2 separate regions of the Homo sapiens genome follow, and region 1 is linked to region 2. The links come from fine-mapping of genetic effects on gene expression. Tissue or cell type: whole blood. Region 2 holds a variant in brackets; the other region holds the start of a gene. Each region is shown on its reference strand, or each on the opposite one. Region 1 holds the start of P2RY12 (purinergic receptor P2Y12). Region 2 holds the start of COPZ1 (coat protein complex I subunit zeta 1).

Region 1 (15,860 bases), not on the chromosome of region 2:
ACCTGGGGAGCAGGATTGGTTTCAGGGCTTTTTCATCAGAAAAGAACAAAAGCCCATCCACGTGGACTGACAGGCTGGAAACCCCAAATTTGAGGGAGTGTCAGTCTGGACCATTTTAAACTTCCCTTCAAGACAAAGGAATACTGGTAGGAAGACTGAATGAGAAGGGGGCACTGATGCTCAAGTGGCATCCTAAAGTGGTGGTGGTCATTTCTAAAATAGTATTAATCACCAAGCTATCAGCTAGGAAAAGATGTATTTTAGTTCTCACATAGGTAAACAATAACCAATCATGAATATCTGAATGAAATGGTGAATATTTCTTCCACTGTGCAGCAAGAATGCTGTGGAATTTCATTAAAAATGTCTCAAATCCTCTATCAAATATTTTCCAGGTTTTAATTTAATTTAAATAGAAAAACATTTTATGCATTACTTCTCAAGGTTTATAAAATTATTTCTAAATCACCATCAAATAGATTTCTGTTGTAATGAAAAGATTATTATACGTGGGGAACACTAATAGAGAAACAAGAAGTAAAACTATTTTAAATTAGGCTTATTTTCATCTTTTATAAAGTCTGAAAACATGGTAAAGAAGGAAAATATATGAGGGTAAGATGGAATAGTAAAACATAAAATCTCAGGAACATCCTATTGGCTATGCTAACTCCAAGTTTTATCAAAGAAAAACCAAATAGAGCTTTTTATGTTAATTTACTGAAGATATCAACCACTTAAAATACAATAAATATTTTAGACATATTAAAAATATGTGAGAGAATGGGATTGTATAGTTCTAAAAATTTCAAGTTTCAAACCCGAGGAAATTAGGAGGCACTGAAATATTAATTAAATATTACAATGGAAGCCTACAATTAAAATAAAATTATTAAAAGTGGAGGACGGAAAATCAAAAGCTTTAATCTTTTGTCTGTGACAAGTCATTGTGTGCCATTCAGTTAATGCAGAAACCTGTTAGGAGAACTGTCATAACAAAACTTATCCTGCTCTTGGTAATGTTTCGAGGGATATGATTTGGGCACGAGTAAATCTCATACTAAATGCTAATGAGCCAAGGTTCTCCTTCCTTTCCCCACTTACATCAACTCTTGAGCTAGATTTCGTCTTGCGCTTCCTTCCTTTTGTTTTCTTTTCTTCATCTGTTGTGGTTTTTCCCTGATCTGACAGCTCAGCGGACTTCCTTTCTGGTTCCTGAGAAACTGGAGATGTGGGCTCTTCCTCTTCCTCCTCAGGAGGCAGGGGCAGTGGCTGGAGGTAGTAACTGCGGGGCTTGGGCATGGGGTGTGTGTGATACAGCAGGAGGTGATGCTGCTCCTCGTACTTGATCACTCTTCGGTCCACTCGGACTGTCCCAAACCAGGCCCAGGACAAAGGAGCTGGGTTCTTCTGACCCTCAAACAAGTCCCACGGGGACACCTTCTGCTTCGTAGAGACCTGGAGACCCTGTGGGAAAATAGCGCTCTAAGATAGCACACTCAGATCTTTTCCTTATTCATAGGCCAGGCTTGTATGGGACATGGAGTCAGAGAACACTTTGGCTGGCATGAGCCCTAGAGAACCCGAGAATACAGCAGAGAGGGTTACACAGCTACATCACCGGAGAGCAGTGGCTAGAATTCAGACCTTTGTAAGCCCGGTTCTACAGTTCTTTAACCACATGATGCTCTGTTTAGGCAACAGAGGCAGTCTAGCATATTTTATTGTTAATGTGTATTTCCTCTTTTTGCTAAAAAAATTCTAAAAATTTGTTGCTAAAAATTCTAACACTGCAAAGTTAATCTTACTAAATTATAACCAGTTCTAAATCTCTGTAATCTATTTATAATTTTGAAGATAATATCAAATTTAAGAGTCAAGTTATAGTCAACCTGTAATTGGGTTAGTATTAACTTCAATCCAAATCTGCATGAACTTGGTTCAATATGTGGGCCCTGTACTTAATAAGCCATACTCTGAATATAATATTATTATTAGAGAATTAAATTGTAGCAGCAGGAATAAGTAAAGTCTTTCAACTCAAGCTTATATTTACTGACTCTAGAAAAAAAAAAACGGTTACCCTCTTTTTATTCTTAACATTAATTGGTGACATCTCTTGGCACTTGCCTTAAAATGTCAATTTAAAAATATTTTTCCTTAAATGGCCCCCAAATAACTACTCAGTCATTCCCTAAGATGTAAGTGTTACTGTTGTTATCTATATGCATTCTTTTATGAGTAGCTTCATCTAAAACTAAGGTTCAGGCCAGGCACAGTGGCTCGTGTCTGTAATCCCAACACTTGGTGAGGCTGAGGCGGGTGGGATCACCTGAGGTAAGGACTTTGAGACCAGCCTGGCCAACATGGTGAAACCCCGTCTCTACTAAGAATACAAAAAAAGGCTAGGTGTGGTGGCTCACACCTGTAATCTCAGCAATTTGGGAGGCTGAGGCAGGTGGATCACGAGGTCAGGAGTTCAAGACCAGCCTGGCCAAGATGGTGAAACTCCGTCTCCACTAAAAATACAAAAATTAGCCAGGCATGATGGCAGGCACCTGTAATCTCAGCTACTCAGGAGGCTGAGGCAGAGAATTGCTTGAACCCGGGAGGTGGAGGTTGCAGTGAGCCGAGATCACGCCACTGCACTCCAGCCTGGGTGACAGAGCAAGACTCTGTCTTGAAAAAAAAAAAAAAACAAAGACAAAAACAAAAAAAAATTAGCTGGGCCTGGTGGTGCATGTCTGTAATCCCAGGTACTCAGGAGGCTGAGACAGGAGAATCGTTTGAACCCGAGAGACAGAGGTTGCAGTGAGCAAAGATCGCACTACTGCACTCCAGCCTGGGCGACAGAGCGAGATTCCATCTCAAAAAATATAAATAAACAAAGTAAAACAAAATAAAACCAAGGTTCAATTGCCACCTGTAAATTGACTGTTTCCTAATATTTGTCTTGAGATGAGAACTTTTTCCTTGGTGTAAAAACCACACATCCAAATGGATTCCAGATGTCTTACTACCAGGAAGTCCGCTGACACTGCAAACTCAAACTTGACCATGACTTTAGCTTTTTTTCTTTACACAAACTGGTATTAGATTCTCAGGCTACTCTAAATTCCCTGGTAAATCTGATTCTTTCATGTCTTCATATAAACTCTCCCTTTATTTGTACCACAATTTTCCCTACCTCCCAGCTAACTCTTAATCCTTCAAAATGACTCGTGTCAATTTTCCTGGGGACCCTCTATTCTATCCCCTAATACTCTCTCTGTACCATGTCACACAAATCTCATTACACTGTAATTGTCTGTCTACTTCCCCCTTGAGGGTAGGAACTCTGTCTTTCATCTTGGTGATTGTGGAATGTCGGTGGTTGCTTACTGTTCATTAAAAGAGTAACTGACCAATTTTCTCATATTTTAGAGAACCATCTTTAATATCTTATATAAAACAAATGTCCATTAAATACTGCTTGATAGGAATAGAGAATATCCTAACAATTAAAATAATTTTTATTTGAAATAGCTTACTACAGGAAGGTTTTTTTTTTTTTTTCCCCCCCCAGAGACAGGGTCTCACTTTGTTGCCCAGGCTAGGGTGTAGTGGCTATTCACAGGCATGAGCCTAGCACATTGCAGCCTTAAACTCCTGGCTTCAAGCAATCCTCCTGCCTCAGCCTCCCAAGTAGCTGGAACTAAAGACATGTGCCACCATGCTCAGCTTACAAGAAATTTTTCATTGATAAATATATTCTGCTTCTAAATCTGAAGTATAATCAGAACTTATTTATGCAATTTTTTTTTTACACTAAGCTTTTACTTAGTTTTCTCTTGGTAGGTTTCCAAAAATTTACTTAAATTCAGGGAAACATTTTAAGTCCTTTAAACATATAAAACGTAGATCTTCAAAGATATGACCTCTTTATATGATAATGCCAATGACTAAGTACACTTAGAAGACAAGCATATGCCTTAAAAACATCAACAGCAAAATTAATATATTTTATATATCCTATGGTAAGACAAAAAAAAGTATTTCATCTTTTGTAAATAAATTTATATATAAGAAAAAACATTCACTCTTGCCTGTTTTTTATCTATAGAGTCAAATCCAGCAATTTTGTTTCCTTTTGTGTCAATCAAGGAACCCATAGGTTCACAAGTGATGACATCACATGTCTGTTTCGGCAAAGGTAGTAACTGTCGAACTTTGTCAATACTTTCTGATCGCTTGTCTCCTAGCTCTTTCTAAAGAAAAAAGAGAGAGAGAGAGAGTGAGAAGTGGGACAGAAATTACAATGAAGGCAAAAGTTAACCAGAAGGAAGTTCCCCTATGAAACATTTCCCTTTTTATAGCTTAGCGCATGTTCTTTAACCCTGAACATGTTCTACAAGGCAGTTCCAAATAGAGCAATGAGTGTTTCATTTCTTCTATTTAAGTAGAAAATAGAACACATACAAAGGCACTGTTGTTACACAACAAACATCATAGTGCTGAAATGACAAAAATCCAGGGTAGTGATCACAATCAGAAGACAGGAGCTGCAGAACAGAACACTTTCTCATGTCCAGGGTCAGATTACAAGGTAACCATTGATTTATTTGATTGGTAATGCATCAGATTTATTTGGTTTCTTTTTTGCACTGTTTTCTTACAATTTTTTTTTAAAGGAGTCTGTTAGTGGTCGGTCAAATGAATCGATTTATAAATTTCAATGCAGATGGCTATTTTTTCAATTACACGTGCCAGTCCAAGCATAGAGTTATCCTAAATCTATCTAATGTTAGTATTCTGGTTATATATTTAACAGTGGATTTCTAAAGTTCTTTAAAAAATTAAACATGTTTTATAATGTAATTGTTTTCAATAAAAAATAATCAAGGTTATGTGCATGTAACTTCTGGGTACTAATAAGGTTAGGTGAAACAAATAGCAAATAATCACATTAAATTAAGTTGAATACAATTAATAACATTTAATGAGTAATAAATTAAAATGCACTAGATAATAAATCCATAAACAACTTGAGCTCATAATACAGGCTGATCTCAAACTTACTTTCAGTTTCTTTACTAAATTCATGTATGCACGCTTGTTCTCTTCAGATCCCCCAGGGGATGCATTTGATAGGTCAGAGGCTAACGTTCCATTGATTAAAACACCCAGCATGTCAAGAACTGTTGTGAATAATTCACTAAGAAAGAAAATAATTATTTTCATCTTAAAGTGAAACTGAAATACACTTATTTAACTGAGTATTTTTATTCAAGGCACAGAATTTTTAATAGCATCCAAGTAAATAAGATGTGGCAGAAATCGCCATCAGTATATCAAAGCTTATACCATGCATACATGTAGCAAAATCAATGTGAAGTGATAAAAACATACTTGTTAGTGTGCATGTCAACAGTTCCTGAAGTAATGATCTGAAGGAGTAGCAGGGCCCAGTCTGTAGTCCACTGGGTGCTCCTCTGCACCGTGTCAAACATTCCTCCTACCTAGCAGACAAAATACAGTAAGATATTTGCATTCTGTAAAACAGAAAGAACACCCCATTGCTTTATGTTATCAAATTTTGATTGTTTTTTATTTAAAAAAACAAGGGATGCTCTAGTTTATAGATTACCTTATCTTTTCTCTTTTACCTACATGTTTATCACTATTTTTAGTTCTTTCAGCACAGTTCAGTCATTCAAACATTAACTAAAATGAAGAAGGGACGTGAGTATCTGAATGTGGGCACCAATAAACTTAGCTTTCTTTTGTTCCAAATCTTTTATGATGTCCAGTTTTATGATGCAATTATAGTTGAATTAAACCTGAATAATGTCAAAGTCATGTAATCCAATTATCTGCATCTTTGTGTTTGCTGTACAATTACTATTGAATCTAAGCCTGCTATCATAATACCATATGGAAACATCCACTATCACAGCAGTGGTGGGCAGGAGGCTTGGCCCGCACACCTACCAGTTCACGTGTTGGGACAAGGTTAGAAACAACTGCAAAAGTATCAGGCAGGCCATCCTCCAGAGGGGCCTGCACTTGGGCCTGCCTGATGGGAAAAGAAAACTCAAGGAATGCACAATATGTGAGACATTTTAAATTTCTATAAAACTTCTCTGTGGGATTTGTCTTTATAATCAATTTGATGGAAAGTTGGACAAAACTTTGAGTTAAAAGACTTTTTAAATGGTTTTAAGTAAGTATAGTAGAAGCTAACACTTATAACAGTCTTCTCAGATTTATTCTTAGCACAAACTGAAGAGAAGGAGAGATTCACTGGGGTAGAGGTAGAGAAGGCAAATCTATGCTTAAAATACCTAGCACTGTCTAGATGTCTGACCAGACAGGAAGGAAAGCAGCAAGGGAAACAGAAGGCTTTAGAAACAGGGAAGTAATTACAGAGAGCAAAGAGTGGAAGGCCTCACCTTGTAATGCAGACTTTGCACTTAGGAGAAGTGGAAAGCTGGAGGTATTTTCACATGTAAATATGTTTAATGGAGGGAAAATACTAGAAATGTCACTTACCAAATTTAGGCGGAGTTGCAATGCTTCGTGCATCATCTGCCGCGCTTTTATGTCATCTTGGTATCGTTCTTCTCTCCAGTTACTTAAAATCTAAGATCCGGAAAAAAACTCCCCATTAAAGTTTAATTTTTCTCTCATTTAAAGATAAATTGAGCTTTATACTGATAGCAAAAAACCACTTCTTATCTTTAACAAATTAACAAACAAAGCTAAATAAAATTTTAGCTTTCTTCTTCCTCCATGCAGAAAGAAATCTGGCTATTTATTTGTGCATTTGCCGTTCTAGGTGGAGGAAGAAAATCTTATATAATTATATAGCTAGCCTATGATTAAGTCTGGGAAAATGCTTGAGAGGGCCATCAAATTAAGCATTAATAAAAACTTTTAAAATACATTACCTCATTGATCTTACGAAGAAAAACACTGGAGAGAGAGAATTACATTTTGCCTCAGTCCTGTTATATTTCTAGGGACTTGCTGAACCCTAGCAAATGTATTATTTTGATGTTTTATAGAAGAGAAGGTCTGCTATCTTATGTATGTGTCTTCCTTGATAAAGAGAACGCACGGTACTTTGAAAAATATGGCATTGCAGACATCAGCCAAGTGGCTTTATCAGTTTATAAAGTGGGCTGCTTCTTCACTTCCTCACTGACTCACACTAATGCTGGAAAAGGAAAAATTTGCTTAGGAAAGGGAGCCACAAGTGGGCAACACCCTAAAATCAGATGAGATGAGCAAAAAAAAAGTGCAATTCAAAACAAAAACAAAAAACCACTAACAAAAACCCTATCATGCTCTGAAATATGGTCATTAATGAGAGTCATCTTAAAAGAGTTCAAATGAGTCACATGCAGAAGTACTCCATCCCAACAGATGACCTGTAAGTACCCTGCAAGGTGAGAGGAAAGCACTTCCCAAATCTCATCAGAAGAAATGAACCCCTCCCTAAGGCTGGCTTAAGGGGGCAAGGTAGTTAACTAAACAACAAGCTCTCATGGAGCTCAAATAATAGTAGTGGGACAAATAAAACTAAGTGTAACAAGTGGTTTGAGGCATGGCAATGGCATACAGAATGGCTGTGGTCCTATTTTTAGAGGTGATCAAAGGCCTCCCGAAGGAGGTAACATCTTAACAGAGAACTGAATGAAGGGAGCAGGCCATGCTAATCTCTGGAAGGGAATCTTTCCACCTAAAGGGAAGAAAAGATGCACAGGCACTGAAATGAGAATTTGCTCAGCAAGTTCAAGAACAGTAACATGGCCAGTGCAACAACCATGGAGGAAAGAGGGCCATGACTGGTAGGAGACAAGGTAGGAGAGAGAGCCAGTGTCAAATCATGTCTGGCCTTATCAGCCCGAATTTTTTATACTAGGTATACTGAGGTAATATGTGACTTCCATTTAAAAAGGTTCACTATGATTGCTATATCTAGATCTCTCCTACCCAAAAGGTGAGAAATGACAAGAGGATCAAATAAGATTAAGTGTCCTTGTCCATGTCCATCTAGTACCATTCGAGGGAAAGACATGGTGTCATAGAAACACAGTGCCACAAGAAGGGGTCAATTAGGCTGTGTATCAGGATAAAACACCTCATAAGACCAATCTATCCACTTTGCTTAATTCCATGCTCTCCAATTTCTGTTGTGAATGCTCAGTTTCCTTATAGTACATAGATGCAAGAGCCTCAAACAGTGACCAGGAGAACTGTGTTTGGTGAAAAGGCAATGTCCAAATTATTTCTAAATAAACCAACATGCCTTCTGATTTATTTCTTGTGTACTTGGTTGGCATCAATACAACTGAGTTTCTGAACCTACAGATTTCAAGCTGAAAGCGTGCCTGATAATGTGGCATCCAAGCTTGAGGAGCTGGACTCACTGCCATGCCTACTGCAGCATAGATTGCTCCAGGTCCTCTCCTATGAGGCAGAGTTAGGAGACGGGCAGATAGTTCAAAGTTATATGCAATATATAAAATTTTACTTTTATAGGCAGTACACATTTATTGTATATATCTCATTAATATAAAGTTGTTAATCTTGTGGTGTCTACAATGCCAGGTAGAAGAATAAGGCATGGATTGTTTCTCAGCGTCTACTCAAAACATTTTGTAACCTTACTAGTTGTTTTTTTTTTTTTTTTTTGAGACAGAGTTTCACTATTGTTTCCCAGGCTGGTGTGCAATGGCGCGATCTCAGCTCACTGCAGCCTCTGCCTCCCAGGTTCAAGCAATTCTCCTGCCTTGGCCTCCCGAGTAGCTGGGATCATAGGCGCACACCATCATGCCCGGCTAATTTTTGTATTTTTAGTACAGACGGGGTTTCACCATGTTGGCCAGGCTGGTCTCGAACTCCTGGCCTCAGGTGATCCACCAGCCTCCGCCTCCCAAAGTGCTGGGATTACAGGCATGAGCCACCACACCTGGCCCTTATTAATTTAATCTCAGTATTTGAAAGGCAAATAAATGAATGCCGTTAGAAAGATATTTGCCTGTCTTAATATTATACTATACTTTACCTGGTTAACTTGATTCTGGAGAGATGTTAGGAGGCCTTCCCTTTGTTCATCTTGTCCCTTAAGGCAGGTAAGTACCAGTGAGAGGAAGGGTTGTTGACTCAAAAGAGACATACTACAAAGGAAGTAATAATAACAACAGATCTAGTTAGAAATAATGCATTACTTCCTCTGGCAACATTCATTTCTTTGCCTCACTATTAGATAAATAAGAGAGGTGGTAAATAGCCAAAGACTGCTTGAAAATTTAAATCATACCTCTACTTATAAAATTAAAAGCCACTGTAATGCTTCTAAATCACTTCGTATGCTCTAATTGCCCTCGAAGCCATTCTCAAACTAGCATCAAACCATACTGCATGTGAGCATGCCGGGCAGTGAGGGTAGAAGACAGTGAATTCATCTTCTACATCAATATGCAGAATTTAAAAATGTACATCAGAAAGAATATCAATTTATACACAGGATAAAATTAAAAATTTTTAAAGTTCTCATATAAAACTCTTGTTTTAGAGTCTGGGAAAACAGGCCTATATATATGTCTGTTGAGCTTGTTTTGGGGTTTGATTTTGTTTTTCAGCACATTTCCCAAGACCAAAAAGCAGGGTGTTAGTAGAGCTAATTCATCAGCCAGGGCTGAGGACTCCAAAAACAGTGTACTTGCTGGCGACCCCTAGTGTGCAGCTCCAACACAGCCCACAGGCTCCAACATAGCCCGCAGCATCCACTGGTAAAGAGGTGTCAAGGCATTTGGTTAAAAATTCTGTTTTAAATTGGCATTTTAACAAAATGTCTTCAATTAGAGAATAATCAACAAATCATATTGACAAACAAAGCGCCATGTTGGAAAGACAAATTTCTTAAAATGAGACCTAGGCCAAAATATTTCAATCAGCATTATTCTCCATGGGCAGAATAAAGAGCCCCTGATGTGGGAAGAGCGATCTTTCAAGTCTCTTCAATACCATCTGTCCTGCCTATGGGAAGTTAGGCAATGCACATACACTCACCTATCAGCAAATATGATTTGAAAATTAGAATTATGCTTCCTTGTTGGTTAATTAATCCTGGCCAACATGGTAAAACAACCAGATGTAAAACAAATACAGTACATACAATGCTGGGTCTCTACCAAAATGTACTGTAGTTAAGAGCACAAGCTCAGAAGCCAGACCTCCTGGATTTAAACCCAGGCTTTATGTCCTTCACTGTGTGTCCTGGAGCAACTCATGTAACCTTTAAGTGTCTGTTTCAACATGATATAAAGAAGATAATGAGAGTACCTACCACATGATTGCTATAAGAATTTTAAAAGCTCATGTACATAATGAGTTTTAGAGAGGAGTTGCCATTCTGTAAGCAGTCAATAAATGGTGGCTACTATAGTATTATTCATTAGTGGACAAGAAATCTATGTGCTTAAAATATTTTTTTAATGGAAGAAATTATCAATTTTTTTCCTTTACTCCTAGGTTTCTTGGCATTTTCACATTAGGGTGAGGTTTCTTTCTTTCTCAGTAACACGGTTTTCAAATATAATTACTTGAAACCTTTTCTTGGGCATAAAATAAATTAAGAAAACATTAGTTGTGGTGGCCGAGGAGTCTTAATGTCTAGTCTAGAACAGGAGCCCTAAATGTTAAAAATATGAGCAACTAGTTCAGACACCAACATGCCAGAATTATACATTATATTTATTTTAAACATAAATATCTAAATAATAAAAAAATAGAAATAATTAAAAATAAAATACAGGGATCAGGTAGCTATCCAGATCTGATTCAGTTGGTCTAAAGCGGGTCTCGGAAATCACTGTTTTTAACAGTTCAGCAGTGATTTGGATATAAAGGCAGAATTGAGAACTAATGTATTAAGGATTATAACCTGAAATTTTTTAGGAATAAGACAGCCTTGCCTAATAGAATATTCCCAGTTCCATTTAAAAACTAAATTTCAGTGGACTGTGGGTACAGTGACCACACAGGTTTACAGGAAGTGAGACTTTCTCAATTATTCTTTAAACTCTCACACAGACGCCCATCTTCCAGCCACACCTTTTCTGTTTCTGTCTGTCCCTTTCCTTTTTGGAAGAAGAACCCAAGTGCTGTCCCTTCTCCAGCTCTTCCCCAGCGGCTTTCAGCACTCTTCCTTGCACAGAAGTTGGCAACCTGGCGATGAGGGGGGCCACCAACCATACACCCCTGCGTTCGGAGGAACTAAAATCAGAAACAGGTGTTACACCGGAGAAAGCATCCTTTCCCCTGCTCTCACAGTTATAACAGAAACTCCAAAGCGAAACTTTGATGTATGAGACACACAGACTGTTCTAAAATTTCCCTTTTATTTCTGTATTATCTTTCCTTTTTCCGAACACTAGACATTTGCATGAGCTTTCCACCTAAGCCTACAGAAAGCAATAAAACATGCAGTTCTGGAAGGATATTGTAACTAAACTGACTTTAATGTTTTCCGATGACCCCCTCTCTCTAATTAAAAACAATCACTTTGTCCAACAAACAATATACTTTTCTGTCACAGTTACAATATGAAATATTATATGTAAGCATACTAATAGCTAATTTTTAAGGTTTAAAATTCGCTAGTTATACTTTATACCAAAATGATGAAATACAAATCAGCCTTTCATGATTAAATAATTACTTTAAGACTTTATATGCCTACTGGTTCTAATTCTGCACAAAAATTACCAGGATATATTTGTGCAAAATAATTAATTAATAAAAATGGTGGAAAAAGCGTTTCCCATATAATGAATACTACGTAACACAGTAGACTAAGGGACACTGAAAGCATGAACCAAACCTGAGTTCACCTGCAGTTTCAAGGTGTTTAAGCCTACTCAATCAAATATTCCGAAGCTATCATTCACCCCAGCTTTACTCATTAACTTATTAATAATAATCCCTGCTTACAAGTAACTATGTTCTTCACATTCCTATGACTTAAAGAAAAATCACTGTGCTACACAAAATTTACCGTTACTTGTGAAAAATTCATGACAGTTCAATAAAACAACAGACAAAAATACCTTAGGAATGTCTTTATTCCATTCTGTCTCGTGCTACTTGTATCAGCACTTCCAATACTGTTTGGGTTGAAGAGGCTCATGCCAGAATTAGAAGAATTATTTAGGTCTGCAGACTGCTGGAATACCTCTATTGTTGCCTTTGCAATATTGTCCAGTAAGTTGTTCATTTCGGCCACAGAACCAGAGCCCTAGAGTTAGATATAAGAATACTGGCACATATGTGTATTCCTTTATCCTCAAACATCAACGTGTTTTTGCTTTTTATAAAATTTCATACAGAGATAAGCTTTCAATATAAACTCACAGGGTCCTTCAAGCACTGTTTGATCATTAGCTGGAGTTCTAACCAGGATTGCCTCAGTGTCCACTGCTCAAGATTCTGGGAAAAATGGAAAGAATTAAAACATTATGGGTATCAAATGTGTTAAAATACAGTAATTTCTTACAGTACTCCTTCTCTCAAGAAAGAGCAGAATAATCATACACAATGAAATAATTTATATGAGTCAAAAGGTTCCCAATCTTGCTGCATATATATTCAGTAGCGATACAAACCAATAAACAGAAACATTAATTATTAATTAGTTAATACTGTGCCTGACTCAGCTATGCACTGAAACTAAATAAGCATTTCTCCTTTCAAAATCTATTTAACCAATCCCAATCCAAAATGATTTCAATATTTCTTTAATAATATATTTAACATAGCCCCTCTCTGAAGCATATTTCTCATGTAAATACAATACTGATTTAAAATATCAATATTTGTTTGATGATCATATACAATTTGCAGCATGTACATCCACCCAAAAATAAAGTATGTCAATTCCACAGAAAATGTGTGGGAATAAAAATCAGAATTGAAATCACAAATTAGCAAGGACAAAAAAAGAGAGGAAGTAACTCTTTTTATTATTACGAAGAATTTATCAAATGACAGAAACACAATCTGTATACGACTGACCTGAAGAATACGCTTAATGTGCTGTCTTTGCAGATTGTCCCCCTCGGTACATTCTTTAATGCCATGAGGATAACAGATAAGCTGCAGTAATTTCTGTGCTTGCATATTTGAAAGCACAGGGTCCAATATAAGTTCTTTGTCTGTACATAATCTTTCAGGTTCTTTTAAGCAATGCTCTCCTACCCATTCCTAAAAATAATATGGCAATTAGATTGACAGGCACTGGCTTTCGGTATATATATATGCAATATGTACTAAATCCACAGTGCATAATTGAATAGAAAACTGATAGGAATTTTCCAATTTAAAAAATTACATTAAAAAGTAGGTAGAAAAATTTTAAAAAACAAAATTTTTAGCATTTTGGCTTCTAAAAAATACAAAGTAGAACTTGCTTAAAAACATTTTTTAATGGGAAAAAAGAAAAGACAATAAAGAGAATATTAGTATGTTTTTAACTGGAAAGTAAGGTCTTGCTCTAGGCACTATTTTGTGTCAGTTTTTTCTAACTTGCTATATAATGATTCTATCAGATATACGTTCTTCATAATTTTTATGGAATACATTGTACTATCTCACTGACTAGATACAACATAGTATAACAAATATTTAGAAAACGATCTTCCTTTTTGATACTATTATGAATAATGTTATCATTATAAATGAGTAGTAGTGCACATCTCTTTTTTATACAATAATTTTCTTAGGGTAATTTCATAGAAGTGCAATTGCTGGGTCCAGTGTGAGTGGGGGGCTATAGATGCATGGGGTTAATGACCCTCTGAAGAGTTTCTACCAATTTAAACTCCTATTGCCTTTTCTTTACCATTTTTTTCAAAGGCAAATTATTATACTAAATAAAGTAAGAAATCATCAACAGTAACAGAGCCCAATTTGAACCCAGATCTATTTCGGGTGAAGTCTGTTTTTTAACCACCATACCAGTGGCTCAATGCTGGTTGCCCACTAAAATTACCTGGGATCTTTATAAAATTCCATGCCCAGGGCCCACATCAGACTAATTAAGTCAAACTCAGGTGGTGGCACCCAAATATCAGTAATTTTTTAGGCATCCAAATTGTTTTAAATGCCCCAGCTGATTCCAATATGCACTCACAGTTGGGAACCAACACACAATTGCCTCTCAATACTTATATGACTATGTAGCTATCTTTTACCATAGTTATAACATGCCTGTAAAAATACAAAAACATGACCCAGTCGGTATGACACCTATAGCAAAGTACAAAATAATATATAAGGTATGTCACTTTTTTTTTATAAGAGAACTTTTAAAACAAATATATGGGAGGGAGAATAAACCAAAAAATAATAAAACTGGATCATCTGGTAAGAGGGATATGGGAGGGAGACACATCTCTGAGTATACTTTTTTGTATAGTTTCACTTTTGAAAGTAAGCTATTCTATAGCCAGAGCTGGGGACAAGAAAGGAATTTAAATAATGCAAAACCAAATGAACCTAGTTCTATTTCACATAAAGAATACACTCATAGGGATGGGAAAAGTTCAAATAATTTTTGAACACAGTATTTTAAACCCTTAGAGAAAATGGAATTGCAAACAAATCTTCAAAGCCTTTTAGGTAGGTTTGTTCTTCCTAGTGGTATGTGTGTAACATTTCTTTCTTTCTTTCTTTCTTTCTTTGAGACAGAGTCTTGCTCTCTTACCAGGGCTGGAGTGCAGTGGCGCAATCTCGGCTCACTGCAACCTCCGCCTCCCAGTTTCAAGCGATTCTCATGCCTCAGCCTCCCAAGTAGCTGGGATGACAGGCATGTGCCACCACACCTGGCTAATTTTTGTATTTTTAGTAGAGATGGGGTTTCACCATGTTGGCCAGGCTGGTCTCAAACTCCTGGCCTCAAGTGATCCACCTGCCTCAGCCTCCCAAAGTGCTGGGATTACAGGCTTGAGCCGCTGCGCCCTAGCCTAGTGTACATTTTTGATACTGTATTTTAATTAATCATTTTTTGACAAAGCGCTGGATAGCACATTTAACATGCCCGGCCATGTGTAACATTTTAAAACTATTTCAGATGTATCATAGAATTAAACAAACAAGTAAATTGACGTTTTTGGGAATCAGCATTCTTACTAGGGAAGAAGGTGATACTAATATGAATTAGGGGAAAACACAGAACAACTTTGTGGGGTTGGATTGGAATTGAAGGTATCAGTAGGACCTCATAAATATATATATTTACATATATTTAAGTGTATGGATATATTTTTCTTTCTAGCTTTGTCTGCAGACAGGTCGTAGAATTAATGATACTCCATAACCATGAGCATACATAATACCCAGATCTTGGTTTCTCAGTAACGTTCTCTGCTAAATAGAACCAAGGGCTCCTTGGAGGAATAGTTGATTCCAGGCCCGGGGCAGAGAAAGTACAACATGGGCCAGAAACTATGAAAATACCAACTATTTTTAAAATGTCAAATGATGTGATAGGATGAATAGATTCCTACTGCACAAATCTGGGACAGTCTGAACATGAAAATAACTAAGTACAGTATATTATAACCCATATGGATAATAAATAAACAGGGGAGAGGAGGGCAGGCTCTTCCTTAAAATAGGACACAAACTGATATTATGAAGGGAGAGGAGAAGTTGGGGAAAAAAAAAAACCACCATTTTGCAACCATCATAGTAAAGACTAGACTGGGCAAGAATGAAAATGAATGCTTATGAGGGGTGGGGGAGTTAAACAAGGAGAAGAAAATTTGCACTGTCTCGAAGTATCTCCTCAAAGATTGCTTACTGCAAGGGGA
Region 2 (15,860 bases):
TGTCTCGGCCTCCCAACATGCTAATATTACAGGTGTGAGCCACTGCACCTGGCCTCTGTGCCAACTTTTATTTATTTTTTTATTTTTTTGAGACGGAGTCTCACCCTGTCGCCCAGGCTGAAGTGCAGTGGTCTGATCTCGGCTCGCTGCAAGCTCTGCCTCCCGGGTTCACGCCATTCTCCTGCCTCAGCCTCCCGAGTGGCTGGGACTACAGGCACCCACCACTACGACCAGCTAATTCTTTTGTATTTTTTTTAGTAGAGACGGGGTTTCACCGTGTTAGCCAGGATGGTCTAGATATCCTGACCTCATGATCCACCCGCCTCATCCTCCCAAAGTGCTGGGATTACAGGCATGAGCCACCGTGCCCAGCCTGTGCCAACTTTTTTAAAATTAAAAGCTCCTCTGGGGTTAAGGGCTCCAATTTGCCAGCCACAATCCGATAGACTTCAGATGAAAAGAAAAGAAGAATTAGCTAAAGTCTTTGACAGGGAAGAGCAGTTTTTACATATCAGATTTTTTTTTTTGAGACAGTGTTGCTCTGTTGCCCAGGCTGAAGTGCAGTGGCGTGATCTTGGCTCACTGCAGCCTCTGCCTCTCGGGTTCCAGCAATTCTCCTGCCTCAGCCTCTCAGGCAGCTGGGATTACAGGCGCTTCCCACCACGCCCGGCTTATTTTTGTGTTTTTTGTAGCCTGGCTTATTTTTGTGTTTTTTGTAGAGACGGGGTTTCGCCATGTTGGCCAAGCTGGTCTCGAACTCCTGACCTCAGGTGATCTGCCCACCTTGACCTCCCAAAGTGCTAGGATTACAGGCATGAGCCACCACGCCCAGCCTATATCAGATTTATTAATATTATTATTATTTCTTGTCACCCAGGCTGGAGTGCAGTGGTGCCATCACAGCTCACTGCAGCCTCAACCTCCCAGGCTCAAGCGATCCTCCCCGTTCAGCCTCCCAAGTAGCTGACTACAGGTACATGCCACCACACCCTGCTAATTATTTCTGTATACACACAAGATTAGATTCAAAAAGCACAGCTCAGGAAAGAGTGGGAGCCACTGGTACCACAGAACACTACCCAGCTGACATGAGACCAAATATTGGTTATAAAGAAAAAACTCAACACATGACTCGGGAAGAACTGACGGCAGGAAGAGACACCTACAATCTTCCTATCTGACACAGACCCAAAACATGTAAAGCACAGTCAACAAGAGTTTTGATATTACAGGAGAAAATGTCTCTAAACTCCTACAATCCATCTCTTAAATAGAGACAGGGTCTTGCTATGTTGCCCAGGCTGGACCTGAACTCCTGGGCTCAAGGAGTCCTGCCTCAGCCTTCCAAATAGCTAGGACTACAGGCATGCACCACCATGCCTGGCTACAATACTTGTACTATAATGGGGATCAGCCATTAACTCAAATTTTCCCTTTCTCTGAGATTCAGCTTCTTCATCAGAGAAATGAGAGGCTTGACCTAGATCAGTTAAGGTTAATGCCTTTTTTGAGTTACAGCAGACCCCTTTGATAAACCAATTACATCTATGGACCTTATTCCCAGCAAAATACATTCACAAATTTTTTTATGATTTCATGGCTAGGCATGCTGGTTCCTACCTGTAATACCAGCACTTTGGGAGGCCAATGTGGGGACAAATAGCTTGAGCTCAGGAGTTTGAGGCCAGCCTGGGCAACATGGCGAAACCCTGTCTCTACTAAAAATACAAAAAAATTAGCTGGGCATGGTGGTGCATGCCTGTAATCCCAGCTATTCAGGAGGCTGAGGCATGAGAATTGCTTAAACCCCGGAGATGGAGATTGCAGTGAGCCAAGATCATCGCACCACTGCACTCCAGCCTGGATGACAGAGCAAGACTCTGTCTCAAAAAATATATATATAAATAAAAATAATTTTTTTATGATTTCAAAGAGTTCACAGAGCCGAGTTTAGAATTAAATGAGATTCTCTCTGGAGATAATAAGATGGTGTGGAGGGGGCAGGAAAAAGAGGGGAAATGAGTGATACTTTTGTAAACCACCCCCTCTACTCTACCTGGCATCCAGTAATGCTGGATAAATTCAATAAATGTGTGTGTGGCCTTCATAAATTAATAAATATGATTGAGAAAACTAACAGCCAGCAGGGGGAATAAAGGTCAGCAACCACGCTCCCTCCAGCTTTCTTTTTTTTTTTCCCTTTTTTTTTTTAAGACTGAGTTTCATTCTTGTTGCCCAGGCTGGAGTGCAATGGTGCAATCTCAGCTCACTGCAACCTCCACCTCCCAGGTTCAAGCGATTCTCCTGCCTCAGCCTCTCAAATAGCTGGCATTACAGGCACCCACCACCACACCTGGCTAATTTTGTGTTTTTAGTAGACAGGGCTTTGCCATGTTGGTAAGGCTGGTCTCGAACTCCTGACCTCAGGTGATCCGCCTGCCTCAGCCTCCCAAAGTGCTGGGATTACACGCGTGAGCTACCATGCCCAGCCACCTCCAGCTTTCAATGGCTGAATTTGATGACTGTGAAATGGGCAGGACAAAGACAACCAAACCCTAAGCTTTTTAGGAATGCAAAGTCTCAGGACCTTTCTCAAAACTCAGAAAGCCTGTCTGTTGGAAAATTTTTTTTTTTTGAGACGGAGTCTCACTCTGTCGCCCAAGCTGGAGTGCAGTGGCTCACTGCAACCTCCGCCTCCCGGGTTCACGCCATTCTCCTGCCTCAGCCTCCTGAGTAGCTGGGATTACAGGCGCGTGACACCATGACCGGCTAATTTTTGTATTTTTGGTAGAGACGGGTTTCACCATGTTGGTCAGGCTGGTCTCAAACTCCTGACCTCGTGATCCGCCCGCCTCGGCCTCCCAAAGTGCTGGATTACAGGCGTGAGCCACCGCGCCCGGCCTTGCTGGAGGATTTTTTACCCAGGGGTCACATAGTCCCTAATTCTTCAACTATCATGGAAGTGAAAGAATCACAGAAATGAGGGACAAAGCAGTACTGCTGGGAAGAGAGATGAACTGAATAAGGAGAAATCAGACTATACTCCAGACCTGAGGCCTGAGAGCACCATTAGAACATTCTGCCTTCTCAGTTTGGTAATCCAGGAGCCCTCACTTAAATAACACTCAGCAAAGGAAAAAAATCAAAAGGGGCTAGATCCATTCCTGATGAGTCCTGGGTCACGATTTGTATCATGATTTATCCCTTTACTCCCCCCCACATCTCCCTGCTTTTGCTCCTGAAAACAAAAAGCTAGTCTCTGAGAGACTGAATTGACAGACTCTGTGTTATCTTTCAGTCTATTTATGCCCCCAAATCAACCCCGAGGCAGAATTGCTCTATTCTCCTCTGGTTTTAGTCTCCCTCTAAAACCACACAACAGAAAAGGAGTTGCAGAAAATTAGTTGACCGAGCTATCCAGGGCAATTGGCTATGGATGGGATATCTGCATTGAGAGTGAGAAAATAGGCCGGGCGCAGTGGCTCACACCTGTAATCCCAGCACTTTGGGAGGCCAAGGCATGTGGATCACAAGGTCAGGAGTTCGAGGCCAGCTTGGCCAACATGGCGAAACCCCGTCTCTACTAAAAATACAAAAATTAGCCAGGCATGGTGGTGGGGGCCTGTAATCCCAACTACTCGGGAGGCGGAGGAAGGAGAATCGCTTGAACCTGGAAGGCAAAGGTTGCGGTGAGCCAAGATCATGCCATTGCACTCTAGCCTGGGCAACAAGAGCAAGACTCTGTCTCAAAAAAAAAAAAAAAAAAAAAAAAGAGTGTGAAAATAAAAAGCCAAATAAAAAAGCAGGCTTCATCTGCAGCATATATAACTTAGATTACACAACAGGAAGGACTTCCTGAAGAGATGGGTGTGGTCAAACACCAGAAGAGGTGACACAGGCTAGGGAATGTAAGGCCAGGAGAGATCCCCCTAATAATCTGATGTAAGGAAACCTATTCTGCCCAAAAACAGGAGGGACAGAATGTGAGAGGGCCCTTGCCAGCACAAGCATCTTACAAGTGCATGGACTCATTCTCTGAATCCATCTTCATCAGCTGTCCCCTGGGCACTCTGCCTTTCCTCTTCCTAATTACTCCAGCACAAGTGGGTACATAGGTACTGATTCTTTATCCCTGCTCCATCTGATTTGCTCCTCTAGTTTCCCTTTCCACAACCTGTTTTCTTGTCAACATCCAGACTCTAATCAAGCCATGTCAATGGAGTAAAGTAAGAAACAGCAGCAAGTATCTAGATAAAAAAGACCCTAAACCTGCCACTAGGCTCCGTCAAATACCTGGATAATTGCACTCATCCTCTGCCTCCCAAGGCAGACCTGGCTTCTCAAGGGTCTGGTTTTCCTCACATGGAGGCCCCCTCCTCCTCTTCTGACCATGTGACAGCTCCCCTAGATCTTTGATATAATTTATACCTTGCCAGGGACCAACTCTTTCCCACCACTGTGAAGAAGAGGGAAAAAATATATATAAATACGTCGGAAATCTATAACAAGGTCTTCTTGGAGGGCAAGACATGGGGAGAGTTAGAAGCAGCGTCAATTGCTCTTTGGGGGTTTTAGTTCAAGCCGAGGTCTGCTTCCAGCAATCAACCATTAAAACAAGCTGGCCAGAGTAACAGCACAGTTTATTCTGATCATTTAATTTGAAGTGTCAATAAATTAAACTTCAATCAATTAAACTAGGTGTGCAATAACCCAGATGGACACCCCGACACCAACATAATCACAATAAAAATTTTTATTGCTGCCAGGGACCTCACCGGGGGCAGTGCTGGCACTGCTCGCGCCCTAGCTGAGAAATATATCTCCACAGCGCAGGAATGAGGAGATTGCTTCTCCTAACAAAATGGAGGGGGCCAGGCACCAGCAAGGACGCAGCTGGGAGAGGGGCACAGGGGACTGCCAGGAACGAGATGGGAGTGCTTTAGGGGCTTAATGTAATTGATACCTTTGCCCAGAGCAGGGGGAGGGGGGCATTTAGGCCAAGTACCTCTACTGTTAGGGCCAAAGGAATTTAACAAAAGCCCCATTAAGATGATTCAGGAAGCAAAGGCCAAGGAGCAACATCAACCTTTAAAGTCATTGACATATTCTGCATAGTTTCCTCCTCCATACATACTCATATCCTTGTGCACTTTGGATGGCCTGATTTTTTAATGAGGCTTAGAATTTAGGATTTGGTTATGGTTTTAAAATATTAAGGTAAGACAAAGTACAGAATTAGAAGTCTAGTCTGTAAAGCACTGGAGAAGCACTCTGAAAGTGAATCCAGAGAGGATTAGGAAAAATAAAACCTATGAACAAAGATTTAAAGATCTAAACCGATACAGAATTCAGTTTTGTTTGTTTTTTAAGACAGAGTTTCACTTTTTGCCCAGGCTGGAGTGCAATGGCCCTCGGCTCACTGCAACCTCCGCCTCCCAGGTTCAAGCGATTCTCCTGCCTCAGTCTCCCGTGTAGCTGGGGATTACAAGCGCATGCCACCACGCCCAGCTAATTTTTGTATTTTTAGCAGAGACGGGTTTCACCATGTTGGTCAGGCTGGTCTTGAACTCCTGACCTCAGGTGATCCACTCACCTCAGGATTACAGGTGTGAGCCACCGAGCCCGGCCCGAGTAATTCAGCTTTAAAGAAAAAAAGTAAAGCAGGAAGGAGGAAGGGGAAATCCTTATCTTTAAGATTCCACAGGTTATTAATGGAGAATGGTGATCTGCAGAGATCCTCTTCATTCACAACTCAAAAAGCGAGAACCAGCAGATACAGCAAGAGAGAAGAAGCCAAGTCCAAAGATGCAGGCTGAGATCACTATTATTAAGCATTGGGAACTAAAAGAGATGAAAGGGTCTCTTTCCTTAGAGCCTAAGGAGACCTGAGAGAGATTAGACAAATCTGCTTGAAAGCTAGAGCTGGATTACTTAATTCAAGAAAGAAATGTGACCATGTGACCCACTGTAAAGTACCTAAAAGAAGGGAACTTACTGTTATTTAGAAATTCCACAATCAATGCAAACTTTGATCAACAGTTCTTCTTGACCCCCTGTAGCTTACCTGTCCCTTTTTCTCGACATCCTGCAGCTATGTATGTACCTTGTAGAGTTAAGGACAGAAGAATATGCTTTGATCAGATTGTCCCTAACCGCATTACATAGGTTTCCCATAACAAAGAACCAGTGTGGTTTTAAAAGCAAAGTCCAGGGTTACCTGATCAAGTTAGCAGGGATCTGTGAATGCAGCCTATTAGGCATAGATTAAAGCAAAAGAATAAGGAAGAAGCAGGCTGAAACAGACTTCACTGAAGAAGCAGAGACAGAGAACTAAGGGAAGAGAAATGTGACAGAGAGACTTTCTTTTTCTTTAACTTTTCTGAGACAGAGCCTTGCTCTGTCACCCAGGCTGGAGTGCAGTGGCGCATCTCGGCTCACCGCGACCTCTGCCTCCCAGGTTCAAGTGATTCTCTTGCCTCAGCTTCCTGAGTAGCTGGGATTACAGGCGTGGCCACGCCCAGCTAAGTTTTGTATTTTTAGCAGAGACCGGGTTTCACCATGTTGGTCAGGCTGGTCTCCAACTCCTGACCTCGTGATCCGCCCACCTCGGCCTCCCAAAGTGCTGGATTTACAGGCGTGAGCCACCGTGCCCGGCCTTTTTTTTTTTTTTGAGATGGAGTCTAACACTGTCGCCTGGGCTGGAGTGCAGTGGCGCGATCTCGGCTCACTGCAACCTCTGCCTCCCTGGCTCAAGTGATTCTCCTGCCTCAGCCTCCTGAGTAGTTGGGACTATAGGCTCGTGCCACCACGCCCAGCTATTTTTTTTTGTATTTTTAGTAGAGACATGGTTTCACCATGTTGGCCAGGCTGGTTTCGAACTCCTGACCTCAAGTGATCCGCCCACCTCAGCCTCCCAAAGTGCTAGGATTACAGGCATGAGCCACTGCACTGCGCCCGACAGAGATACTTTCACATATAACTCCCCCAGCTTACCCACTACACACAGGCCCATTGTTAAAAGGGCTCCCCAATTATTATCTTCCTCATTCCTTTACCTTTAAGCAGGCTCCCTTCTAAACATATATAGGTAAGTCTAAAAACTTCCAAAAAAACCAATTCCCTAGAATCTATCCTAGTCTGCTAATTGGGTTTAGGGGGAGGTTTTTTATTCTTATTTTTTTAGAGACAGGGTCTGGCTTTGTCACCCATGCTGGAGTGCAGTGGCACAATCATAGCTCACTGCAGCCTCAAACTCCCAGGCTCAAGCGATCCTCCTGCCTCAGCCTCTTACAGTGCTGGGATTACAGGCATGAGCCACTGCACTCAACCTCTTGATTAAGAATACTTGCTGCCGGGCACGGTGGCTCACTCCTATAATCCTAGCACTTTGGGAGGCTGAGGCAGGTGGATTGCCTGAGCTCAAGAGTTCAAGACCAGCCTGGGCAACACAGTGAAACCGTCTCTACTAAAATACAAAAAAGTTAGCCAGGTGTGGCAGCACGTGCCTGTAGTCCCAGCTACTCGTGAGGCTGAGGCAGGAGAAATTGCTTCAACCCAGGAGGCAGAGGTTGCAGTGAGGTGAGATCACACCACTGCACTCCAGCCTGGGTGACACAGCGAGACTCTGTTTCCAAAAAAAAAAAAAAAAACTTGCTAACTGGCCGGGGTGCAGTGACTCACACCTGTAATCCCAGCACTTTGGGAGGCCAAGGCAGGCAGATCACTTGAGGTCAGGAGTTCAAGACTAGACCAGCCTGGCAAACATGGAGAAACCCTGTTTCTACTAAAAATACAAAAATTAGCTGGGCATGGTGGCGCGTGCCTGTAACCCCAGCTACTCAGGAAGCTGAGGCATGAGAATTGCTTGATTCTGGGAGGCGGAGGTTGCAGTGAGCCAAGATTGCACCACTGCACCCCAGCCTGGGCAACACAGCCAGACTCTATCTCAAAAAAAAAAAAAAAAAAAAAAAAAAAAAAAAAAAAAGAATACTTGTTAACTGCTTGGTACAGAAAATATTTAAAACTACTCAGATTTTAAGCTTTTTACCTATATTTGACCAACCGACATAAGGAATTAACTGTCTTTAACTGAAAGAGAGGAATTAAAACCTGTTATTCTTTTATCTGATGAGGATCTGAATGTGTATGCTTAGGAGATCTGAAGGAAAATAAAAGACAAGCTTCTTTGGAAAGAGGCCTAGAGTTCAAGCCAATTAAGGAAGAAGGCTGGGAGTTAAATTCCTACACTATACTACCTACCTACCTACACACACACACACACACACACACACACACACACACACACCCCTCCAAATCGCAAAATAGGGCACTTTTGAGAGAAATTCTCTGGTCCAGTTCTAAAAAGGGGTAACAGGTATTTTATTTGTTAGAACAAGCATAAAGCATCATATGGACAAGAGGGCTAATACAGCCCTTTAGCGACCACAATTCTCATGTAACCAGAGAGGGAGAAATTAGCATCCTAGATCATACAATAAGAATTCCTGGCCCGGCGCAGTGGCTCACGCCTGTAATCCCAGCACTTTGGGAGGCCGAGGCGGGTGGATTACGAGGTCAGGAGATCGAGACCATCCTGGCTAACACGGTGAAACTCCGTCTCTACTAAAAAATACAAAAAATTAGCCGGGAGTGGTGGCGAGCGCCTGTAGTCCCAGCCACTCCGGAGGCTGAGGCAGAAGAATGGCGTGAACCCGGGAGGCGGAGCTTGCAGTGAGCCGAGATCGTACCACTGCACTCCAGCCTGGGCGACAGAGTGAGACTCCGTCTCAAAAATAATAATAATAATAATAATAATAATAATTCCTGGCCAGGCGCGGTGGTTCAAGCCTGTAATCCTAGCACTTTGGGAGGCCGAGGCGGGCGGATCACTTGAGGTCAGGAGTTCGAAACCAGCCTGGCCAACATGGTGAAACCACGTCTCTACTAAAAATACAAAAAAAATAGCCGGGCGTGGTGGCACGCGCCTATAGTCCCAACTACGCGGGAGGCTGAGGCAAGAGAATAGCTTGAACCCGGGAGG[T/C]GGAGATTGCAGTGAGCCAAGATCGCGCCACGTGCGCACTCCAGCCTGGGTGACAGAGCAAGGCTCGGTCTCAAAAAAAAAAAAAAAAAAAAAGAATTCCTAAGGTCTAAATGGGTAGAGAAAAGGAGAACAGAATAAGGAGTCTAGAAAAAATATTCCACAATCCATGCTAACTTTATCAGGTATCCCAGAACTTTGATGGAATACTGATTATTTGACAAACCTATATAATAGGGATTAACAGGAAACCGAAGACAAAACAGTTTCCTGAAGGAATGTGGCAGGGAATCGGCAATGGAGAGTCAAACTTGGGAAACCATCAGGAGGAGTCTGTAACGACAAAACATCTGTATTCTTTTCTTACAATATGGGGCGAGTTTGGTGGTTTGGTAAATTAAAATCAGGGTATCATCCACAATGCTAAAAATAAGGGGCAACCTGAAGGGTCCTAATCCAGTACGCCTACAGGTCTGTGTATCCTAAGGAGTCCATGTGCTGCCTTCAACTTTCCACCGACTCTATGCCCTCTCCCCGGCAGGGCTTCCTACTCTAAACCAAGGCTTTAGCTCCTACACTAGGCCACACACTTATTCCAAAGGTCAGCAGAACGCTCAGTCCCCAAGAATTACCCGGAACTCTCTTTCCCCGTCTCCCACTCGGGCTGAACCCTGACTCCCGGCCCCTGTGGACACCACAGCATCTCTGCTGCCCCTCCAGCTCCTACCAAAATCAGCGCCTCCATCTTGCCCCGCAGCTGGTGCCGACGTGGAGCCGCAAAAGAAACGCCGCCGCTGATTGGCCATACGTTCCCATTAGGCCCCGCCTAGGATAAGGATCATTGGGTAAGGCTTGCTTTATTGGCCAATTATTGTACTAGCTTGCTTACCGGAAGCAAAGTGTCCAACCAGAAGGCTCAGGTGTTTGATTGTCAGCTTGAATACTCAATAAAACGCCAAAACCTCACGACTCATTGGGGCGGGAGGGTTAGTGGGGCGGGGTTGTTTCCATGGGGAACAGAAGAAGCGATTGTTAATTTTCAATTGGTAGGGCCGAGGACACGTGATATTGTCGGACTGATTTAGCGATTTTTAAACCGCACCCTCTTTAGGGGGCGCTGTGTCTCCTTAGCCTTTAACACTGGCGCTTTCTAACCGGAATCCTGCCCTAATCCCTATTTTCAGCGCCCGCATTAGGTCCATGATCTCTGTGGCTAGCCCTTCCCTCATGCTCGCTCAGGTCACTTCAGCATCCTCACAGAAAGTCTGCACAACCATAGAGTAGAGCCAAGAAAGGCCCAACATGTTAACTACATAAACCAAGGCTGCCAGGAGTTGATAGTCGCAATAACAATCTCCCTAAGGTGGAGTTCCAGGCTTTGCTGGGCCTGAGGAACATGAGAAGTCAGTTTGTAAAGGCCAACTTGAGCTCAACGTGAAATCGGCTTTGGAGATGGGGTTTGCGGGACAAACGGGGAAAGGGATGGGATTAGAATAAGAGAGGGGTTATAGGGAGTAAATTCTGGGGTTTTCCAATAGAAACAAGCCGTTGTGCCTGGGCGCGGTGGCTCAAGCCTGTAATCCCAGCACTTTGGGAGGCCGAGGCGAGCGGATCATCTGAGGTCGGGAGTTTGAAACCAACCTGACCAACATGGAGAAACCCCGTCTCTACTAAAAAAAAAAAATACAGGCCGAGCGTGATGGCTCACACCTGTAATCCCAGTACTTTGGGAGGCCGAGGCGGGCGGATCACGAGATCAGGAGATCAAGACCATCCTGACTAACATAGTGAAACCCCGTCTCTACTAAAAATACAAAAAATTAGCCGGGCGTGGGTGGCGGGCGCCTGTAGTCCCTGCTACTCTGGAGGCTGAGGCAGGACAATGGCGTGAACCCAGGAGGCGGAGTTTGCAGTGAGCTGAGATCGCGCCACTGCACTCCAACCTGGGTGACAGAGCGAGACTCCGTCTCAAAAAATATACATATATACAAAATTAGCCGGGCGTGGTGGAACATGCCTGTAATCCCAGCTACTCGGGAGGCTGAACCAGGAGACTCACTTGAACCTGGGAGGCGGAGGTTGAGGTGAGGCGAGATCTCGTCATTGCACTCCAGCCTGGGCAACAAGAGCGAAATTCCATCTCAAAAAAAAAAGAAAAGAAAAGAAAAGGAGAAGAGAAGAGAAAAGAAAAGGAGAAAGAAAGAAAAGAAAGAAAGAAAGGAAGGAAGGAAGGAAGGAAGGAAAGAAAGAAAGAAAGAAAGAAAGAAAGAAAGAAAGAAAGAAAGAGAAGGAAAGAAAGGAGAGGAAAGAAATGAGGCGTTGCAAAATGAGAAAAGAGAAGTTTACTGAATGCAAGAATTTCACAATAGGGAATGATTTTGATGAAGCTTGGCTTTCCCCTATCCCTTGGTTTCCTGATCCCTGACTCCTCTTAGGGCAGGGACACCTATTACCTTAATTATCCTAAAGGGATTTTTTCCCTCATCTCTGAAAATTATATCCTTAGGAGCCCTCCAAGAAGAGATTCCAAACTTACCCAGGAATTTTTCTTTTTTGAGACGGAGTCTCGCTCTGTCCCCCAGGCTGGAGTGCAGTGGCTCAATCTCGGCTCACTGCAAGCTCCGCCTCCCGGGTTCACGCCATTCTCCTGCCTCAGCCTCCAGAGTAGCTGGGACCACAGGCGCCCACCACCACGCCTGGCTGATTTTTTGTATTTTTAGTAGAGACGGGGTTTCACCGTGTTAGCCAGGATGGTCTCCATCTCCTGACCTCGTGATCCGCCCGCCTCGGCCTCCCAGAGTGCTGGGATTACAGGCGTGAGCCACTGCTGCACCCGGCCTTTTTTTTTTTTTTTTTTTTTTTAAGACGGAGTCTCTCTCTGTCGCCAGGCTGGAGTGCAGTGGTGTGATTTTGGCTCACTGTAACCTCCGCCTCCCGGTTGCAAGCGATTCTCCCTGCCACCTCAGCCTCCCTTGTAGCTGGGATTACAGGCGCCTGCCACCCCTGGCTAATTTTTGTACTTTTAGTAGAGACGGGGTTTCGCCATACTGGCCAGGCTGGTCTCGAACTCCGGACCTCAGATGATCCACCCGCCTTGGCCTCCCAAAGTGCTGGGATTACAGGCGTGAGCCACCGGGCCCAGCCACCCAGGAATTTTTCTAATAGTCGGAGTAGAATCAAGGAAACATAAAACAATACAATACAAGGGCGCTGTGGCATGTGCCTGTAGTACCAATTACCCCAGGGGCTGAGGCAGGAGGATGCTTGAGCCCAAGAGTTCGAGGCCGTAGTGCGCAGTGATTGTGCCTGGGAATAGCCACTGCATTCCAGCCTCGACAACACAGGGAGACCCAGTCTGTATATAAAAATAAGATAAAATAAAAAATTGAACAATACAATGCAAATTATAGACCTACAGTGTACTCTGACAGAAGGTGAATTTCTGGTGGAATACCAGGTGTTAAGCCTTATATCTGGAAGAAGTGAAGGCTTGTCCTTTTATTCCTCAAGGAGAGTTGTTCACACATTTACTGTGCCTGGCATCACAGTCAGTGGGTTGTCATTGGCTTTGCAGCTTAAAGGTAATACTAACATTTACTGCCCACTTATTATGTGCCAGGCACGGTGCTAAATCTTTAAATACATTATTGAATACATTTTTTAAAATCCTTATGAAGTAGCTGGGCATGGTGGCTCATGCCTGTAATCCCAAAACTTTGGGAGGCTGAGGCAGGCAGATCACCTGAGGCCGGGAGTTCGAGACCAGACTAGCCAACATGGTGAAACCCCGTCTCTACTAAAAATACAAAGATTAGCTAGGTGTGGTGGCAGGTGCCTGTAATCCCAACTACTCCGGAGGCTAAGGCAGGAGAATCTCTTGAACCCGGGAGGTGGAGGTTGCAATGAGCGAGATCCTGCCATTGCACTCCAGCATGGGCAACAAGAGCAAAACTCTGTCTCAAAAAAAAAAAAAAAAAAAATTCCTGGCCGGGTGCGGTGGCTCACACCTGCAATCTCAGCACTTTGGGAGACCGAGGCGGGTGGATCACGAGGTCAGGAGTTTAAGACCAGCCTGGCCAAGATGGTGAAACCCCGTCTCTACTAAAAATACAAAAAATTAGCCGGGCGCGGTGGCAGGCACCTGAAATCCCAGCTACTTGGTAGGCTGAGGCAGGAGAATCGCTTGAACTCAGAGGGCAGAGGTTGCAGTAGCCGACATTGCATGCTACACTCCAGCCTGGGTGACAGAGTGAGACTCCGTCTCAAAAAAAACAAATAAAATAAAAAATCCTTACGAAGTAGATGATTATTAAACCCATTTTACAGATGAGCAACATGGAGTTTAGAGCAGTTAAATAATTTACTTAAGGCTACAGAACTGTTTTAGCAGCCATACGTTTGAGCACAGGAGACTCTAAACCATGTTCTTACCCACAGTCCACTCCTCTAGTTTGTTGTACTGCCTCTCTTGCATCCCAGTCCTACCTCAAGGACTCTACCTCAGTGCCAGATATTCTACAAGGACCATAAGGAGGAAAAAGTGTGGTATGGTTGGTTCATGGGGATGGTTGGCTCCTTTTTCTGTGTAGTAACTGACAAATTTTAAGTCAGATATTGTTGCAGAAGATCGCTTGATTCTTAGCTCTCCAGCCTGTTGGGGTAATTGTGCTGTGGGAGGAAGACAATTGACTGAATTAGAGACATTAGTTATTGTTGTGACTTTGCTTTAATCAGTGAGAGAACTCTGCAAGTCTCTGTACCCTCTCTGGATGGACTATAGCTGTCACTTCTGGAAAGGGGAGAGGTTCAGACCAGAGCTTTCTAGGGCCCTAGCTAACTTTTTTTTTTTTGGAGATGGAGTCTCGCTCTTGTTGCCCAGGCTGGAGTGCAATGGCACACTGTCGGCTCACCGCAACCTCTGCTTCCCAGGGTTCAAGTGATTCTCCTGCCTCAGCCTCCCGAGTAGCTGGGATTACAGGCTTGTGCCACCAGGCCCAGCTAATTTTGTATTTTTTTAGTAGAGACGGGGTTTCTCCATGTTGGTCAGGCTGGTCTCGAACTCCCAACCTCAGGTTATCTGGCTGCCTCGGCCTCCCAAAGTGCTGGGATTACAGGCGTGAGCCACCACACCCGGCCAGGCCCTAACTTTAAAATTCTATGATTGGCCAGGCGCCATGGCTCATGACTGTAATCACAGGACTTGGGAGGCCAAGACGGTGGATGGCTTGAGGCCAGAAGTTCGAGACCAGCCTGGACAAAATAGTGAGACCCCCATCTCTACAAAAAAATAAAAATAGACCAGGCACGGTGGCTCACTTTGGGAGGCCGAGGTGGGTGGATCACGAGGTCAGGAGTTCAAGAACAGCTTGGCAAAGATGGTGAAACCCTGTCTCTACTAAAAATACAAAAAATTAGCCGGGCTTTGTGGCGGGTGCCTGTAATCCCAGCTATGGGAGGCTGAGGCAGAGAATTGCTTGATCCCAGGAGGCGGAGGTTGCAGTGAGCCGAGATCACGCCACTGCACTCCAGCCTGGGTGACAGAGCGAGACTCTGCCTCAAAAATTAATTAATTAATTAATTAAATTAAAATAAATTAAAAAACCAGTAACCTTCATTCTTTCCTCTGCCCAGCAGCCGGTAACCACTACTCTACTTTCTGTCTCTATGAATTGACTATTCTAGTACCTCATAAAATGGAATCATACAATATTTTTCTATTTGCATCTAGCTTATTTCACTTAGCAGAATGTCTTAAAGGTTGCATAAGAAATCTTTGAAGGATCGATTTCATGGAACAGAATTCAAAGAAAGAAAAGAGAACAGAGATAAAACTGGAAAGGTACTTTGTGTCCAGGTTGTGAAACACCTTGAAAACAAACCTAGGTAGCTGCCATAGAGGGACCAGATGTTGTGGAAGTTGGAATTGTTACAGTCTTTTGGAAAGTATTCTGGCAATATCCTGTAAAACTAAACATGGATATACCCTCTCCTAGAGAAATAAAAACACAGCCCAATACCTAATGATACATATTTAAGAATGCTTATTATAGAATTGTTTACAATGGCCAGAAATAACATCTGTCAACAGGGGAATGAGTTAATAAATTATCGTACATCTAGACTGTGGAATAATATGCAACTAGGCCGGGCACAGTGGCTCACACTTGTAATCCCAGTACTTTGGGAGGCCGAGGTGGGCAGATCACCTGAGGTCAGGAGTTCGAGACCAGCCTGGCCAACATGGTGAAATGCCGTCTCTACTAAAAATACAAAAATTAGCTGGGCATGGTGGTGAGCGCCTGTAATCCCAGCTACTTGGGAGGCAGAGGCAGGACAATCACTTGAACCTGGGAGAAGGAGGTTGCCATGAGCCAAGATCGCACCATTGTACTCCAGCCTGGGTGACAAGACCAAAACTCCGTCTCAAAAAAAAAGGAATGTTAGATCTATATACATTAACCTGGAGAAATAACAATGGCATGTTAAATGATAAAAGTAAGTTGCAGAGTAATTTATATGTCATGATTTTATTTTTTTATTAAAAAAAATAAGACTATAGATGAGGCGCGGTGGCTCACCCCTGTAATTCCAGCACTTTGGGAGGCTGAGGCAGGTGGATCACCTGAGGTGAGGAGTTCCAGACCAGCCTGGTCAACATGGTGAAACCCCATCTTTACTAAAAATACAAAAATTAGCCAGGCGTGGTGGTGCACGCCTGTAATCATAGCTACTCAGGAGGCTGAGGCAGGAGAATCACTTGAACCTGGGAGAAGGAGGTTGCAATGAGCCAAGATTGCGCCATTGCACTCCAGCCTGGGTGACA

What was found. PIP is the estimated chance that this variant, and not a neighbour inherited with it, causes the effect.
Region 1: P2RY12 starts here. The variant in region 2 is the best candidate, but not a certain one, in a credible set for the expression of P2RY12 in whole blood (TOPMed, PIP 0.54).

What each region holds. Positions count from the first base shown.
Region 1 is chr3:151,373,417-151,389,276 of GRCh38, reverse strand. It overlaps P2RY12 (purinergic receptor P2Y12), which reads left to right and starts at 4,524. Exons shown (of 3, transcript NM_022788.5): 1 at 4,524-4,585. MED12L (mediator complex subunit 12L) reads right to left here. Exons shown (of 45, transcript NM_001393769.1): 28 at 13,063-13,251; 29 at 12,403-12,477; 30 at 12,099-12,286; 31 at 11,104-11,265; 32 at 9,053-9,164; 33 at 6,532-6,621; 34 at 5,389-5,498; 35 at 5,059-5,194; 36 at 4,086-4,247; 37 at 1,105-1,467. RefSeq lists an enhancer at 11,140-11,209.
Region 2 is chr12:54,319,086-54,334,945 of GRCh38, reverse strand. It overlaps COPZ1 (coat protein complex I subunit zeta 1), which reads right to left and starts at 9,815. Exons shown (of 9, transcript NM_016057.3): 1 at 9,765-9,815. The coding sequence starts at 9,782. RefSeq lists enhancers at 4,375-5,064, 5,065-5,755. The variant T/C (reference allele first, on the strand shown) is at 9,041.